2 separate regions of the Homo sapiens genome follow, and region 1 is linked to region 2. Evidence: fine-mapped QTL for protein levels in blood plasma. A gene starts in region 2. The other region holds a variant in brackets. All regions are shown on one strand. Distances are between the middles of the regions.

The links. A credible set is the group of variants that fine-mapping cannot tell apart. PIP is the posterior inclusion probability: the model's chance that the variant is causal. Protein levels are from antibody-based Olink assays in UK Biobank. Linkage for the fine-mapping came from a reference panel and not from the study's own genotypes, which makes the PIPs less certain.
Region 1: its variant is the best candidate, but not a certain one, in a credible set for the plasma level of the CSF2RB protein (UK Biobank, PIP 0.56).

The regions. Positions count from the first base shown.
Region 1 is chr22:36,922,476-36,930,475 of GRCh38, reverse strand. CSF2RB (colony stimulating factor 2 receptor subunit beta) reads right to left here. Exons shown (of 14, transcript NM_000395.3): 3 at 7,109-7,232; 4 at 4,299-4,489; 5 at 917-1,074; 6 at 669-837; 7 at 1-101. LOC105373023 (a long non-coding RNA gene) reads left to right here and starts at 4,533. Exons shown (of 2, transcript XR_938230.2): 1 at 4,533-4,726. RefSeq lists enhancers at 3,773-4,972, 7,618-8,000. The variant C/T (reference allele first, on the strand shown) is at 3,190.
Region 2 is chr22:36,909,063-36,917,586 of GRCh38, reverse strand. It overlaps CSF2RB (colony stimulating factor 2 receptor subunit beta), which reads right to left and starts at 3,959. Exons shown (of 14, transcript NM_000395.3): 1 at 3,910-3,959. RefSeq lists an enhancer at 5,425-6,126.

The DNA.
Region 1 (8,000 bases), 13 kb before region 2:
GGAGACCGAGCTGGCCACCTCCTTCCTCACCTCCCAGGAGCAGCTGAGCACGGCGGCCCCGTCAAAGAAGCACTCCAGGTTCTGGGGCTGGGCCTCATCCCCTGGGTTGGAGACAGGTCCTCATGTACTCCGTCATTCATCCCTCCCATAGCTCTCAGTGGGTGCCCACCGTGTGATTCATCACACAGAGGTCATGAGCTCTGGGGCCAAAAGACCAGGGCTGAAACTTCAGCCTGAACCTGCCAGCTGTGTGTCCAACAGCTCCGAGAGAGAGAGAGAGAGTTCTGTGCACCTGCACGCCCTCCCGGGAGAATGGAAATAGTATCTAAGTTTCAGTGTTTGGGGATTGAACTGAAAAATGTGGGTAAGCCCTGAGCATCCTGTAGCCTCCATTAACACACAGCTGCTAATAGCACTGTTGTTGTTATTATTGTAATTGCCATTGGCAGAGAACGTGCAGAAAACTGGAAACCCAAAGTGAACAGATGCAGAGTCCTACTGGTCAGTGGTCACAGTAGAGGTGGGACGGCCCAGGGACGCTACTGGAAAGATGGCAGCAGGAGATCTGGGAAGCCCCCAGGTGGAGCCCAGGAACCCTGCTGTGCCAGGAGCTCCTGATGAGCCTGCCCTCCCACCACGGGGCATTTCCTGGGCTCTGGCAACATTACCTGGCTGGGAGTCCCAGCAAACCTCTGGGCTCCACTTGCTGGGACGTCCTGAGAGCCGAGAACCTGGGGCCAGGCGGGTCCGTACTCGGGCCACGTAGGTGCTGCTGGGCATGAGGTGCTCTGGCCCCAGGGTGGCCTGGGAGGTGTTGGAGAGGAGGATGGCTGCGTCCTGTCAGGAGACAGTGGGTGCTGGAGGAGGGGTGCTGCCCATCCCTTCGGGCTGGGGCAGAGCTGGCCGTGGTTCCTACCTCCCAAGAGTCCTGAAGCCGCTTGTAGACCACCTCAAACTCCAGATCCCCTGGGGACAACCAGTGGCTCTGGGGACTCCCAAGGGCCACACTCCAGGTCAGCAGGAAGTGGTCCTGGTCGGTGCTGATCTGCAGGTCCCTGGGCTCAGGAGGCTGGACTGGAGGGGAGGAAGTGAAGGGCACCTAAGGGCTGGACCGCTGGGGGGCAGTCAGGGCCTGCATGGCCTTTTGTGTGGACACAGGGGGTTCCAGGCCACCCCTGCCCCCAGCAGCTGAGGGACCTTGAGCAAGACCCGTCTCCTCTGTGAGCCTCAGCCCTTCATCTGCAAAACTGTAGGGTTTCAACATGAAAGCAATGGAAAGCCGTGCAGATTGCAATGCGCACGTGACCCGAACTCCATAAAAAGCGCTGGCGAGGAAACTCATTGGAGCCTCCTCTGTCCTGAGGCTCCCCACTGCCCACGCTGCGGCCTGGGTGGCTCCTGCTAGCAGAGGGGCCTGCGGTTCAGCGGCCTCCCCCCTCCTGCTGTCCAAGCTCCCTTCCTCCTGCCCAGGGTCCTTCCTGTTGTCAGTGCCCCGGGCAAATGCCTCCGGCTCTAGGAACATCCTCGGATCTGCATCTCCAGGCGGAATCCCTCATTCCTTCTCTCATTTCACCATAGCTCAGTGGAATTCCCTCCACCAGGGCCTTACCACAGCTGAGGGATTCCTATGCTTCTGTGTCTGCCTCCCCTAAGGTGTGAGGAGATGGGGGTGGGTGGGATTGGTCCTGACCCCCTTCCCTACCTCCAGGCTGAGATGCGGCTTCTCAGTGAATTATGGGGCAAGGTGAATGAGTGAATGAATGAACAAATACGCGTAAGCAACTTTGGGGCTTCTCATGAAATCCTTGCAGCCACAAGGCAAGCATCTATCTCCTGGGAACTCTGGGTTGTTCAAGAAAATGCAGAATGAAGACACGGCACCTGATTTCTGGTTTCTGGTGTCTGCTTGCTGAGGGATGGCTTTCAAACGAAAACATCCTCACACATAGGATGTAAGTGCTCTCTGCTGGACATGGGTTATGGCATGCTAGAGCATGTCAGGAACCATCAACCCAGAACGGCAGACACACAGCAGGGGAACCGCCCCTCCTCACCCACAGCCAGGACAGGCGTCCCTCATGGGTCACTGCACTCCCAGCCCCCGAGGCTGTCATGGAGGGGGAGCTCTTCCCGGCAGAGCCCTCTCGGAAGCTGCCACAAACTGCGCAGACTGGGAGCCCCATCAGAAACCTGCTCAGCCAACTCAAGAGAAACCTCTTGAGTCCACCAGCTCATTTCACAGACGGAGAAACTCATAGAGGAAGTAAAATGTCCAAGGTCTCCAAACATGGAGACTCAGAGCAGATCAGATGCATGCCTGTCGCCTGCCCAGTACCTCCCAGCATCCTTGATTCATTGCTAATCTGCATTAGGCTGGACCCTACCTCGCTACTCAACACAGGCTCCAGGAGGCCAAGGGCCACACTTCTCTCCCTATATCTAAGTTGTCTCCATCGCCTTAGAAACCTTCCTTGTTTCCAGGCTGTAAGCTCCAAGGGCAGGGTTGCTGGCTGGTTTGTTGACTGCTTCGTTGGCTTATGTAGGCGCTCAAGGAAAGAAGGTTGAATGAATGAATTGTGTGTATATCTGAACTATGATTTGCATGCCCTCATGTCCCCATCTCCTAGCCAGTTGTGTCCTCATCATTTCTAGGAATGAGTGCTTTAGGCCACAGCCTGAATTTCAACTTCTTTCCCAACTAATGCTCCTCCAATCTACCCTGTAAGTCCCCTGTCCCCAGCATTCTCACATCCACATCTGATCATGTCATTTCCCCTCAGTGCTCTCCATGCCTAGAGGGTCCCCTCTACCTGAGACTGCAGGAGACAGAAGCCTCTCCAGGGACAGGTCCTTACCTGTGTCTCCTGCTTCTTCCCACCGCTGTCCAGCCCTTGAAGCTGATGCTCCCTGGACACAATGGTGAGCAGGTTCCCCAGCTGCCCATGCCCTTCTGATCCCCCAGCCTCTGCACAGCTGTTACCCTGCCAGAGAGGCTCTTACTGCCCTCCCCTCCTGTCTACCCTTCAGATCTGAGTTGCAAAGCTCTTCCCTCTGGGAAGCCTGTTCTGATCTCCCAGGGGCCCTGCCCTTTACCCCCTGCATGAGGCACCCACCCGCCACTGTCAGTAAGTTCTCACGGTGGACGGCATACAGTGTTTCCCCTCCCTCCAGCCTGGGCCCCCTGAGCTC[C/T]ATTCGGGAAGGAAGGGACTCTCGTGTCCATCAAACCCATGTGTGGAAATGTTGCTTCTGATGGACTCCTGGTGGCCTAACTGATCCCCTCCTCTGGCAGTGGCTTTATGATGTTGTGGCAAAAAAGGGCAGGAAGCCATGGTCAGAGCCCCTTCCGTGTGACCCTTGCAAAGAGCACCAGGTGGTTCGGTGGTTAGGACCGGGGACTCAGACCATCCTGCACTGGATCTCAGCTCTGCCAGCAGCAGTAGAGAGGCCTTGGACTAGTCACCTCCCTCTGTCTCCGTTTCAGCAGCAGCCAAAGGCACCAATAACAGCACCAAGCCTGCCGTGGTTCTGAGACTCCCAATGACAGCCTGCAGTACCTCCTACCAGCCTGCCACCAGCATGGGTTTTTGCCACGTCAACGAAAACTTTCATAAAACGTGTCCCTTTTCAGGTTTAGCTTCATTCTAAGCAACCATTTCCTTGAATCCAGGACTTCGAAGTGCAGGTTATATTTCTTTCTAATATAGAGGCAAATAAAACCTAACTACATAAAATAATCATCTACCCCACCCTAGACCACAGATGGCTTCATGGACCACTGTGGGATTTCGGCCCACACCGGGGCCCCTCCTCCAGGGCAGCGAGGAGACAAGCTCCCTGTCTACCATGCAGGAAGCCCCCGGGAAGGCTGACCCCATCTCTGTCATTACTGCTCAGCTGTGGGACTTCAGAGGAGGCATCTGACCTCCTGGGCCTCAAGGGCCACATCCAGGAAATGGGTTGCTTCAGAGATGAGATGAAACAACTAAGCGGACAGAGTTTTCTAACTTGGTAGGTTTCTAAGTGAGTGGTGAGAACGGTTTTCTTCAAGACAAGCCTGCAGTGCTGGAAGCCCATGGCTTAGTGGGAGGTGGTAGCAGCCAGGGGCACAGGAGAAGCCTTTGTCAGGGGCCCCTCTGCTCTGAAGTCTCCATGTAACCAGACCATACCCTCATCCCTCAAGAAACCCTCACCCAACCCCAAGCCACAGCCTTCTGCCTTGAAGACTCCCTGGACCACCCCTGGTGCCCCCGCTGTCCACACAGGAAACCAAGCCCCGGGCAGGGCCCCCAGCCCCTCACCATGCTGGGTCAGAGTGACGGTGAGCCGGGTGCCCAGAGGCCTGTCTGGTTGGAATGAGAAGTAGTCAACGTCAGTGACGACAAAACTCTGGCAGGGAATGACACATCTCCTGGGCACGCAGCGGGGATGGGGGCAGGCTGACCAGGGCATGTCATCACTGAGGTCACAGGACACTGGCTCCAGGAGGTCCCTGTTGGGAGAGGACACGGCTTAGCCCAGGGTGTATGGGTATCACTGACTCACGAAAGGTTCCTCGAGTGCTCACCACATGCCTGGCTCTGTTCAGAATCAGGGGCCAGCAGTGATAAAACACACAAAAATCCTGCCCACGGAGCTGCCATCCTGGGAGAAGGGGACCCGCATGGAACAAAGTGTGTAGCGTGTGCAGTGGAGAGAACTTCATGTGGAAAAATAAAGCAAGAAGCAGGTGAGGAGGGAGGAAGGGCTGGGCCAGGGAGGCAATTTGAAATATGGGACAAGCAGGCTTCTCTAAGGAGGTGACCTGGGGGCAGAATGTTAAAGGCATTGAGGGAGGGACTGTGCAAATTGTGAGGATTTCAGGAAATGGGAACAGCACGTGCAAAGGCCCTGGGACAGGCAGAGTTTGGTGTGCTGCGTGGCTTGGCCTAAAACCAGTGCGCAGGGAGTAGAGCGTGTGATAGGGAGGTCTAGGAGACCCATCCATCTACATGATGGGATTGGATCTCACTGCGAGTGAGTGGGAAACAGTCATGAGCAGAGGTGTTGTAGATTTTGATAAATGCTTTGAAAGGATTCCTGAGGGTCCTCGGTTGCGAATAGACTGAGGTGGGAATGTGGCAATGTTGGAAGCAGGGAGCCCAGTTACGAGGCTTCTGGAATATTCAGGTGACAGGAAGTGGCGTGCAACAGGGTGGTCAGGCTGGCGTGGGTGAGATTCATGTTCTGCTTGAGATAAGGTTGGCAGCATTTGCTGGTGGAGGGATGTAGCAGTCAGGAAGGAATGGTGACAAAAGAGACTTAAAAACAAAACAAAATCCTCCCTGTTGTTTAGTTTGAGCCACTAGGAGCTCCCATTTAGAAAGGGAGATGGGGAAGACAGAGGCAGCAGCGCAGCTCGGGTGAGAGCGGGACTTTGGTTGAGGACGTTTGGAGTCGGAGACACCTGTTGTCTAAGTGACAGGTGGAGAGGCCAGTACGCCTGGAGGGCTGGAGCTTAGGGGAATTGTGGGCTTGAGGTCACCTTTGGGAGATGCCCCAGGGGCCTGAGGGGGTCTCTGCAGAGTGGATACAGCAGAGAGGAGGTCCATGGACTGGGCCTGGGTGTCTTGCCATCAGGAGGCAGCAGACAAGGAGAAAGAGGAGGATGGGCAGGGCCCCGGGGGCACTGGGTGAGCTGTGGGCAGAGTCAGGTGCAAGAGAAACTGCAGGGAGGCCGCGGTGGTCCTCCTTGTCAGGGGCTGCCCCTGGTCAAGTAGGAAGAAGGCGGAGGCCCAACCATGAGATCCTGCTCCCTGGGACATTTGCTGACTTGGACCAGAGCAGTTTGGGTGGCCTGGTGGGGGCAGCATCCTAGGGGAGTGGGCCCAGGAGGAAATGGCTGGAAAGACACTGGACGTGGTGAATGTGGACAACTCTTTAGGGAATGCTGCTGTCAAAGGAAGCAGAGAAAGAGGGGCCGCAGGGTTGCCAGGTCAGGAGATGCCCAGGCGCTGCACTCCTGTGGGCATCTGAGAGGGGGTTGGGGCAGGTTTGCAAGGCAATTGGGAAAGATCCTGGGAGAGGGCATGGTGGGTGGCACAGGGCAGAGTGGGGACTTGGGGGCCGTGATGTTCCTGAGCAACAGGACCAGACAGCATCGTGTCTCAGGCCTCAGACAGGAGCCCTGGTCCAGGCCCAGGCCCCGGCGGTGGGCAAAGGGGGTGGGGAGTGTGAGTGTGGGGTGGGTGGGGAGCTTCTCCCTGGTCCCCTGTTGTGTCAGAGCAGCAGGAAGCAGGTCACAGGGAGGGGCAGGATGGTCTTTGAGGAGAATGGAGAAGGTCCGACAGAGACGCCCTGGAGAACTGAAGGCGGTGGAGGGGTGGGGGTGGCAGAGCCGGCCCCGCCCCCCAACGCTGGGGTGACCTCCAATGGGTTGTCATCTGCCTCTCTGGTTCCAGCTATTTAATTACTTAATTTATGGCTGATTTAGACCCTGGCCAACACCCCAGAGCGATTCTGGTCCCCTTCCCTTGTGGCACGTGCCCAGGAGAGCTTGGGTGGGAGAGGTGGCAGCCCACATACGGAGGGGGGGCCTGGGAGAGCGCGGAGCCCCCTCCCAGACACGTCCACACAGCTTGCTCTGCCACTGTCTACCCCGTGGCCAGGGCTGGCACCTCACCTCCAGGGCCTCAGTTTTCCCATCTGTGAACTCCCAGGCTAGCGCCATCTCTCCTTGGTCTACTCTGGACAGGCAGGCAGTGGCACAGCTGGGGCTTCGTGGCCTGGCCCTGCCCACCTCACAGTGAGGAGGAACTAAGATAGGTCATGTGGGGCAATTGTGTTAAATTGTGATGAAACAAGAGAAGATTTTCACCATTGCCACCACCACCATTGTCACCAACATCAGTGTAGGAGGCACTCCGCAGAAACCCCAGGTCAGACGGCAGCACCCGGCCTCGCAGGTGCCTGGCGGAGCAGGAGCTCTTGCAGGGCCTCCCTCCTCCTCTGTCCTCTGTCCACTCCCACCCCGAGGCTGACCTGACAGGTCCCTCTCTACACTGTCGCCCCATGCCAGGCACAGGGGACGTCGTAGCCCCTGCCCGTGGCCCCTGCCCCCAGCATCACTCACTCATTCACCCGGCGAATGAGGGTCACGTTGACGAGCCGCTGGGCATCCTGGGTGTCTGCCCACCTGCAGGTGATGTGGCTGGTGTAGTCGTTGTAGCAGCGCAGGGTCTGCAGCGGGATGGTTTCTGACAAGAGGGGTAGAAGGGGGTCACCTCTCTTTCCTGCAGGGACCCTTGTCACCATCACCCCCAGCTGCTTTGGGATGTCCCGCTCTGGGGAGGGGTCTCCCAGGTCCCTGCAGAGGCACCAGGTGGCCAGGCACATGTACATGTGTTCATGTCTGCCGGGGTGGGCTCCTGGTTGCGGACCCTCCTCTCCTGGCAGAAGCAAGACATTCTGTTGGTTCTCAGCATGGTTTCTGGGCCTCCGCAGTGTGCTGTTCCTGGGCACGGTCCCCTCCCCCCACCCCAGGACAGGGACATGCATCAAGCACAGGCCTGGCCCCTGGACCGACTGTGCAGCCTGGGAGGGGGCACACACTCAGCCCTGGGATGCAGCGTGGCAGAGTTCTACCCTGCAACCTCCCACCTCCTCTCTAGTCCCCGTCCTCAGGAGCCTGGTATTTGTTAAGGGGACTGTGGTCCCAGCATTATCACAGAAGCCAGGTCTCTGGGAGCCCTTGGGAGGGGCCATTTCACCTCAAGAGCCCAGGAGCATCCCAGTGCGGGCTTCAGGCACAAGGAGGGTGCTAGCGGCTGAAGCAGGGAGAGAACCCCAGCCAAGGCCCTGCAGGAGCAAAGTCCCGGAGGTGGGAACCACTGAGGCACAGAGAGTGTCTGCTGGGGAAGGAGGGGCAGGGAAACGGCCAGAGCAGCCATCCTGGAGCCTAGGGGCCGGGAGTGCCGCCCTGAGAAATGTGGGCAAGGAAGCCAGACACGCTCAGCTGGACTTTC
Region 2 (8,524 bases):
CACTAAGAATGAAGAGTAAGCATGGGGACAGGAGGATGACAGAGAAGGGATGGGAGGGACAGAGAAAGGAAGAGAGAGAAAAGAGAAGAGAAAAACCAAACACCTTCTTACTCAAAATAAACATGCACATATTACATTCCCAAGCTCATGAAGAAATTGAATGGCAGGGATAAACATTCCCAAGCTTATGAAGAAATTGAATGGCAGGGATAAAAACTAGGGGGGAAAAGCAAAATACAAATTCACTCCAGACAAAAACAATTTCATAGGTCAACCTGACAAAGACTTTTAAAAGAAGAAGACATCATGGCCAAGTAGAGGGTACTCCATACATGGAAGGAGAACCCTTAAGAAACCTATTTATGATTCAAACAAACAGATGAACGGATTAAAAGGGAAAAAAGGATAAGCTGATCTTGACAGACACTCCTAAATATTTAATAATAAACAAGACATTTCTGGTTAAATGAACAAACAAACCCTGGCAAATGAAGCAGTGGCGGAAACGTTGGCATCACTGAAAGTCTGCCAGAAACCAAAGGCGATGACAGAGTCAAGGGGGCACGTTAGTGTCCTCCTGTCAAAGCCTCACACAGGAGGCTCTCACTATTGTCTTTACTTCCAGTGGTCAATGTCCCTCAGATCATCTCTAAATTCAATGCAATCAACATGAAAATTCCAAAAAGGAATTTAATGGGCTTGGCAAACTGATTTTTATTTTTATTTTTGAGTTGGAGTCTCACTCTGTTGCCCAGGCTGGAGTGCAGTGGCGTGATCTCGGCTCACTGCAAACTTTGCCTCCTGGGTTCAAGCAGTTCTCCCACTTCAGCATCCCAAGTAGCTGGGATTACAGGTGCACACCACCAAACCCGGCTAATTTTTCGTATTTTTAGTAGACATGGGGTTTCACCGTGTTGGCCAGGCTGGTCTTGAACGTCCAACTTCAAGGGATCTGCCTGCCTCAGCCTCCCAAAGTGCTGGGATTATAGGCATGAGCCACTGTGCCTGGCCTTGGCAAACTGATTCTAAATTATAACAAACCAGAGATGAGAGACTTGCTCCATTCGTTAGAAAAATAATAAGGAATGTAGTGACAGCCAAATGGAAGAGAAAACAATAAAGAAAATAACGAAGTATGTATAGAAGCCTAGGATGTAATAGGGGCACTTCAAATCATTGAAGAGAGGAGAAATCACACACTCATAATTAGCAATGTTAAGACAATTAGATGGTAATTATTTTTAAAAGTTACTTTACACATTACTCACTTCTCTAAATTCTAGGTGGGCTAAAAATCTCAAAGTCAAAACCAAAATAGTAAAATTATTAAAACTCTTTCTGTAATCTTAGAGGTTTCAAGACACCAAACCAGAAACCATAAAGTAAAAAGAGGTTTACAAGACACCTGTGATCTTAGAGGTTTACAAGACACCAAAATCAGAAACCATAAAGTAAAAAGTAATGACAGGTTTGACTTAACAATGAAAACATTTTTATATGACATAAGACATCTTAAACATGGTAAAGAAAAAGATAAGTCATAACCTGGGAGAATATATTTTCAACATATATAAATGGATTATTAATACACGTAATAAATGAGTCACTCCAAAAGTTAAGATGTAAAAGAGAATTCAACAGGAGATGAACAAAAATTTCTCCACATTCATCATAAATGAAATCCAAAAGGCCAATCCACATATAGAAAATGTACAACTTCACCCATAATCAGGGAAAGAAAAAAATCACGCGACATTGAGAATTTCCATACATAATATTGGACAAAATTAGAAGATTGATAATTTCTCTAAAGGTAAATTGGACCCTTTATGCACTACCTTGGGGACGTCAGCTTAGCTCAGCTACTTTGAGGCTGATTTGACAATACCTATTATAATTTCTAACGCACAACCTCTGCACAGCAATTCTGCATTTAGTAATTTAGGCTACAGAAACACTTTCACAGATGTGGAAAAATTAGAAACAATCTAGGTGTCGATCAACGTGAGATTAGATGAATTGTGGTGTACCCATCCTAATAAATGCCACATATTTCTTAGGGTTACTTAACGAGTTAAATCTGTATGTATTATTGTAGAAATTTGGAAATATTCCAAAATACAATATTAAGTGAAAAAATTAGGAATATATATATATATATATAAATAAAATAATCCCATTTCTGTAAAAAGAAAAACTACCATCCTGGCACAGTGGCTCAAGCCTGTAATCCCAGCATTTTGGGAGGCTGAGACAGGCGGATCATCTGAGGTCAGGAGTTCGAGACCAGCCTGGCCAATATGGTGAAACCCTGTCTCTACTAAAAATACAAAAATTAGCCACGTGTGGTGGCTCATGCCTGTAATCCCGGCTACTCAGGAGGCTGAGGCAGGAGAATCACCTGAACCCGGGAGGCAGAGGTTGCAGTGAGCCAAGATTGCACCACTGCATTCCAGCCTGGGCGACAAGAGTAAAACTCTGTCACAAAAACAAAACAAAACAAAACAAAAAACAAACAGGAAAAGAAAAACTATATGCTTGTATCATGCTTAGAAAATGTTCTGGAAGAATACATGTGGTGAAAAGAATAAGCTATGGAACTAGGGAAAAGAAATTGCTGGGGACTTTGTCTCTTGTGCTACATAATTCTAGATTATTCTAATTTTCATGAAGGTAGGTTTCTGTGTAGTTGCTTGTTTAGCATTAAATACATTCCTTATACAACTCATGAATTATCCTGTGGTGTTGGTATATCTGTATACTGGAACAATATAAATAAAACTGCTGGATGAAAAAAAGAGTGACCAAAAGCTAATAGGAAATGTTTACTCATTATAAAATGATTACAAAGCAGGAAAGATGATAGAAAAAAATTAGAATTGGGCTGTACAAAAATATAACAGCAGGGTTTTTGAAGACTAAAAATTGCACATATGCAGCTTGTCGCTAGCACCTGTCTGACAAGGTCCCAGTGAAACACCTGCCCTTTCATTCTCAGGGCCAGTACACACACCTGCACACACCCTGAAGCAGGCACCCCAGATACCCACCCACCCAGCCAGCATACTTGGGTACAGAACACACACACCTGGGCCCCAACCCAAATCAGCAACCCAAATCAGCAGGGCAGAGTGTCATAACTAAAAAGACAGACAGACAGAGAGAGAGACTGAGAGAGAGAGAGAGAGAGAGAGAGATTGCTGGATAGTGCCTGGTATGTCTCTGGGCAAAGTGCTGGGCTCTTTCTCAAGTTCAAAGTGAGCTTCTCAAGCCACACCGCACCCAGCTCTGGGCCTCAGCGCAGCAAGCTTCCAGGTTTCACCCTCTGCCTCTTAGTCTCTCTGCACTCCTGCATCCCCAGACATCCGCACATGCACATACACACACAGGCACACACACAAATGCACACACGGGCAAACACACGAGCATGCGTTCTCTCTCTTTCTAAACCAAGATGTCAGGGACTATCCATGCTCCCCATTCCACAGATGAGGAGACAGAAGCCCAGGGTGGACAGGGGGTGCTCTCACTACCACCAGCATCTTAGTGACAAAGCGAAGACAGACTATAGGTGCCTGACTCCCAGGCCTGAGCTCTCTTCACCCCACTAGGCGTCCTTCCCACCAGGACCAACCAGATCCCGCTAGCGAGGCTGAGTCCTCCCCAGAGCTCTCCTACAACACCCAAGCAGCTTGGCACCCCTGGCTGCCTCCCCATCCACTGGCCGCCCTAGGAGTCTGGGCTCAGGTCATCCTAAGAGGCCAAGCCCTAACTCCTCCAAGTCCCCAGGGCACAGCTACCCACAGGACGCCCCCCAGGCTCCCCCTGTCCTTTTTCATCCTGGACTCCCCACATTCCCCCCTGCTCTGACCCCACCCCTCAGCCCTGCTCCTGGACGCCGGGCCATACCTCTGTGTGGTGGGAGAGACCAGTCTTCTTCTGGAGCCTCTAGGCAGAGTGAGCCTCCCACGTTTCCTATTTATGTTGATGTCATCAGGAAACAGAGAAGCAGAAAGAGGAAGCAGTGCCGGCCCAGGCCTACTTTGCTAATAGTGCACGTGACTTTTCTTACTTCCAGAAAGCCTCCTACTCCAATTTACCTTCCTATAAACTCCTAGGCCTCCTTCAAGCCTCAGCTGACGCAGGGCCTCCTCCATGCAGCCTTCCCTGACTGCTTGATGGGGATGCAGGTGGAAGTGGCTGCAATAACCATAGCTGGTTTGAGCCCAGAGCCAGACAGATCTGTGTTGGACTTCCAAGTCCACTGCTTCTTAAAGCGTGTCCTTGTGCAAATCATCTGCGTGTTACTTCCCCAAGCCTCGGGACATCCATCTGTCTGTTACTTTTGCAGAAGCATCTACAAACCTGGAAGGACTGTTGAGGGAATCCAGTGAGATTCTGTGCAGGAAGACCTTAGCTCAGAGCTGGCCACAGGAGAACCCCCTACAAGTGGTAGCTGGTGGCATGTTGATTTCCCCGATGTCCTCTTTGCCCTGCCGCCCCACCCCACCATGTGTCATATGGTCATGTGTGTTCATGGCTGTCTTTCTTCTGACACTATCTTCAGTGCTGGCTTGTGTCCGGCTTGCACTTCCCTCCCAAATACCTAGCACATGGCCTGGTACAGAGGAGAAATTGCACCTTTGACTGTGTGCAAATGAATAGATGAATGAATGAATGAATGAATGAATGAATGAATGAATGAGTGGCTCCCTGAGCACAGCAGGGCCAGCAGAATTAAGGTCAGGTGAGTGAGGCAGTCTCTCGTGCTCAAAATTTAAACAGGCATTTAAAAATTCAGTAATTGTTGTAAGTAATATTTTAATGCAATATGGTTTAAAAAAATCCCAACTGATGCAGAAACTATTCACGGTGAACCAAATATGAAAAGTTTGAATAAAGACAAGATGAATCACAGTGCCAAGACACAACAAAACGCAGTCATATTTCTCCTACATGGGGCTGCCTCCCAGGAGAAAGGGCAGCAGGCAGGAATGAGGGGAATGGAGGGCAAGAATGAGGGGAATGGAGGAAATGGAGGGGCAGGAACCTGCCTCGAAGCCACTGGAATTCTGGCCTGATTGTTGTTCTTTGCTTTCCTCCTACCAGGAAGGGCAGGGTTGGCCAGGAAGAGCTGGCAGGGCCTCACCCTAGCAGAGAAAGCCCAGGGTAGAGGAAGGCATGTGTGGTTCTCTCAGGCACTCCGGTCAGTGTGAGGTCCCTGCCTGGCATGGAAAAACCCTGCAGGGGCTTCTCCAGGGCTGGAGAGGATGGAATTAAAGTGACGTCCCGGGCTCTCTTTTCTCCCAGGTGTCCCCACTCTGCCTGTCTTTGCTGAGGTCCTCTGTGGGACTGGGAGGCTGCGGGCCTGGATGCCCTCAGGAGCACAGAGGATGCTGTCTGGTGGAGAAACGAAGAACCCGAGACTCTGAGTCAAAATCACTCCGGACACCAGACCCAAAATGTGAAGGAGCTTTAGGAACACCTCAGCCAATTCACTTGACTGACCCTTTCCTTTTAAAAGTCATCATAGAGCAGCAGGGGATAAAAATCTACATTTGAATGAGTCTAACAGAGTTCTCTCAATAAGTATTAAAAGTTCTAAGCGAGAAGAATCACACCGTCAGGAATTCATTGAATGTTTTCGTTTGTTTGTTTGTTTTTTCCTTCAGTGGTATGTAAAATACCGTGTCTTGCAATTGACGATCTTTTAGAGACTAAGAAACCCAAGAAAATGTTGGCAAGAACGTAGTACTCATAATGACCAGGGCTTGAGCATTTACGCTGTGAGCAGACCTTCGGCTGGGGGCTTCTCCATCTCTTCCCAATAACCTTTATGTAGCTGTTACTGTCTTCACCTTACAGATGAAGAAATTGAGGCATGAAAAGGAAGATAACTTGTTGAAAGTAGTAACTCGTATATGTTAACATTGCATTTTTTTCCATTTCCATTTTTATTCTGAAACTATTTCAAAATACAGAGCGTTAAAGGAATGATACAAAGAACTCTCACATACCCTTCATGTGGAAACCCCCTTTGAGTTTCGCTAAGCTTCTCAATAATGGTTTTGTAACAAGAAAATCCATCCGGGACTTTGCATTCTCTCTAAATGCATGGCTCTTAGTTGCCATGTCTTTCGGGCCTCCAGTTTGAAACAGATGCCTTGTTTTTTCCTCGACATCTCGAAGACTGCAGGTTGGTTGTTTTGAATAATGTCCCTCGATTTGGCTCTGTCTGATGATTAGAACTGGGTTATGCTTTTTTGGCCAAAATAGCACAGAAGTGATGCTGGATTATTCTTGGTGAGTCCTATTAGCTTTCATTGTCAATCTGTCCCATCACTAATGTCGTTCGCTCTGATCATTTGATTAACTTGACACCAATCAAGTTTCTCTATTGTAAAGTTACTTCCCCTTCCACATCGTAATTTATAAGCATTTGGTAGGGAGATACTTTTAAGCTTTCTCATCCCACTCCCACACTTGTATAATTTCAGTATGCAATGATGTTCCTTAATTTAATTAAACATTATCATGATGATCATTGCCAAATGGTGACTTTTAAAAATTCTGTCATTCAGAAGTCCTAGCCAGAGCAATCTAACAAGAGAAAGAAATAAAAGACATCCAAATAGGAAAAGAAGAAGTCAAACTTTCTCTCTTCCTTGATGATATGATTTTATACCTAGAAAACCCTAAAGACTCCACCAAAAGTCCCCGGGAACTGATGAACAACTTCTATAAAGTTGGAAACAAAATCAATGTGCACAAATCAGTAGTATTTCTGTGCACCAATAAAGTTCAAGCTGAGAGCCAAATCAAGAATGCAATCCCATTTGCAATAGTCACACACACACACACACAAATAAAATACTTAGGAATGCAGCTAAGCAAGGTCATAAAAGATCTCTACAAGGAGAACCACAAAGCACTGGTAAAAGACATCATAGATGACACAAACAATTGGAAAAACATTCCATGCTCATGGATTGGAAGAATCAGTATCATTACAATGGCCATACACCCAAAGCATTCCACAAACTCAATGCTATTCCTGTCAAACTACCACTGTCATTTTTCACAGAATTAGAAAAAACTATTCTAAAATTCATATGGAACCAAAAAAAAGCTCGAATAGCCAAAACAATCCTGAGCCAAAAGAACAAAGCCTGAGGCATCACATTACACAAATTAAAACTATACTAAGGCTACAATAATCGAAGCAGCATAGCACTGGTATAAAAACAGACACATAGACCAATGGAACACAGAAATAAAGCTGAATACCCGCAGCCATCTGATCTTCAACAAAGCTGACAGAAATAAGCAATGGGGGAAGCACTCCCTATTCAATAAATGGTGATACGATAGCTGGCCAGCCATACACAAAAGAATGAAACTGGACCCTTACCTTTCACCATATACAAAAATTAACTCAAGATGGATTAAAAGTTTAAATGTAGGACCTCAAATTATAAGAATCCTAGAAGAAAACCTAGGAAGCACCACTCTAGACATCATTCTTGGGGAAAAATTTATGACTAAGTTCTTAAAAGCAATTGCAATATAAACAAAAATTGACAAGTGGGTCCTAAGTAAACTAAAAAGCTTCTGCACAGCAAAGGACACTATCAACAGAGTAAACAGACAACCTACAGAATGGGAGAAAATATTCGCACACTGCATGCAGCAAGGGTCTAATATTCAGAATCTGTACAGAACTTAGGCAATTCAGCAAGCAAAAAATAAAATAAAATAAAATAACCCCAATAAAAAGTGGGCAAAAGAAATGAACAGACACTTCTCCAAAGAAGACATACAAGCAGCCAACAGATATGAAAAATGCTCAATATCACTAATCATCAGAGAGATGCAAATCAAAACCACAATGAGATGCTATCTCACATCAGTTGGAATGACTATTATTAAAAAGTCATAAAACAATAGACGCTGGTGAGGCAGCAGAGAAAAGCAAATGCTTATATGCTATTGATAGGAATGTAAATTAGTTCAGCCATTGTGGAAAGCAGTTTGGAGATTTCTTAAAAAACTTAAAGCAGAACAACCATTTGACCCAGCAATCCCATTACTGAGTATATATCCAAAAAGACACCTGTGCTCGTATGTTCATTGCGGCACTATTCACAATAGCAAAGACATGGAATCAACCTGGTTGCCCGTTAACAGTGGACTGGATAAAGGAAATGCGGTATATATACACCCACGGAATACTACACAGCCATAAAAAGAATGAAATATGTCCTTTGCAGCAGCATAGATGCAGCTGGAAGCCATTATCCTAAGCAAATTAATGCAGGAACAGAAAACCAAATACTGTATATTTTCACTTATAAGTGGGAGCTAAACATTGGGTGCTAATGGGCATAAAGATGGCAACAATAGACACAGGGAACTACTTAGAGGGGTGAGGCAGAGAGGCAAGGATTGAAGAACTAACTACCCGGGTACTACACTTACCATGTGGTTTGGGATATGAATTATCATTTTTCACAGAATTAGAAAA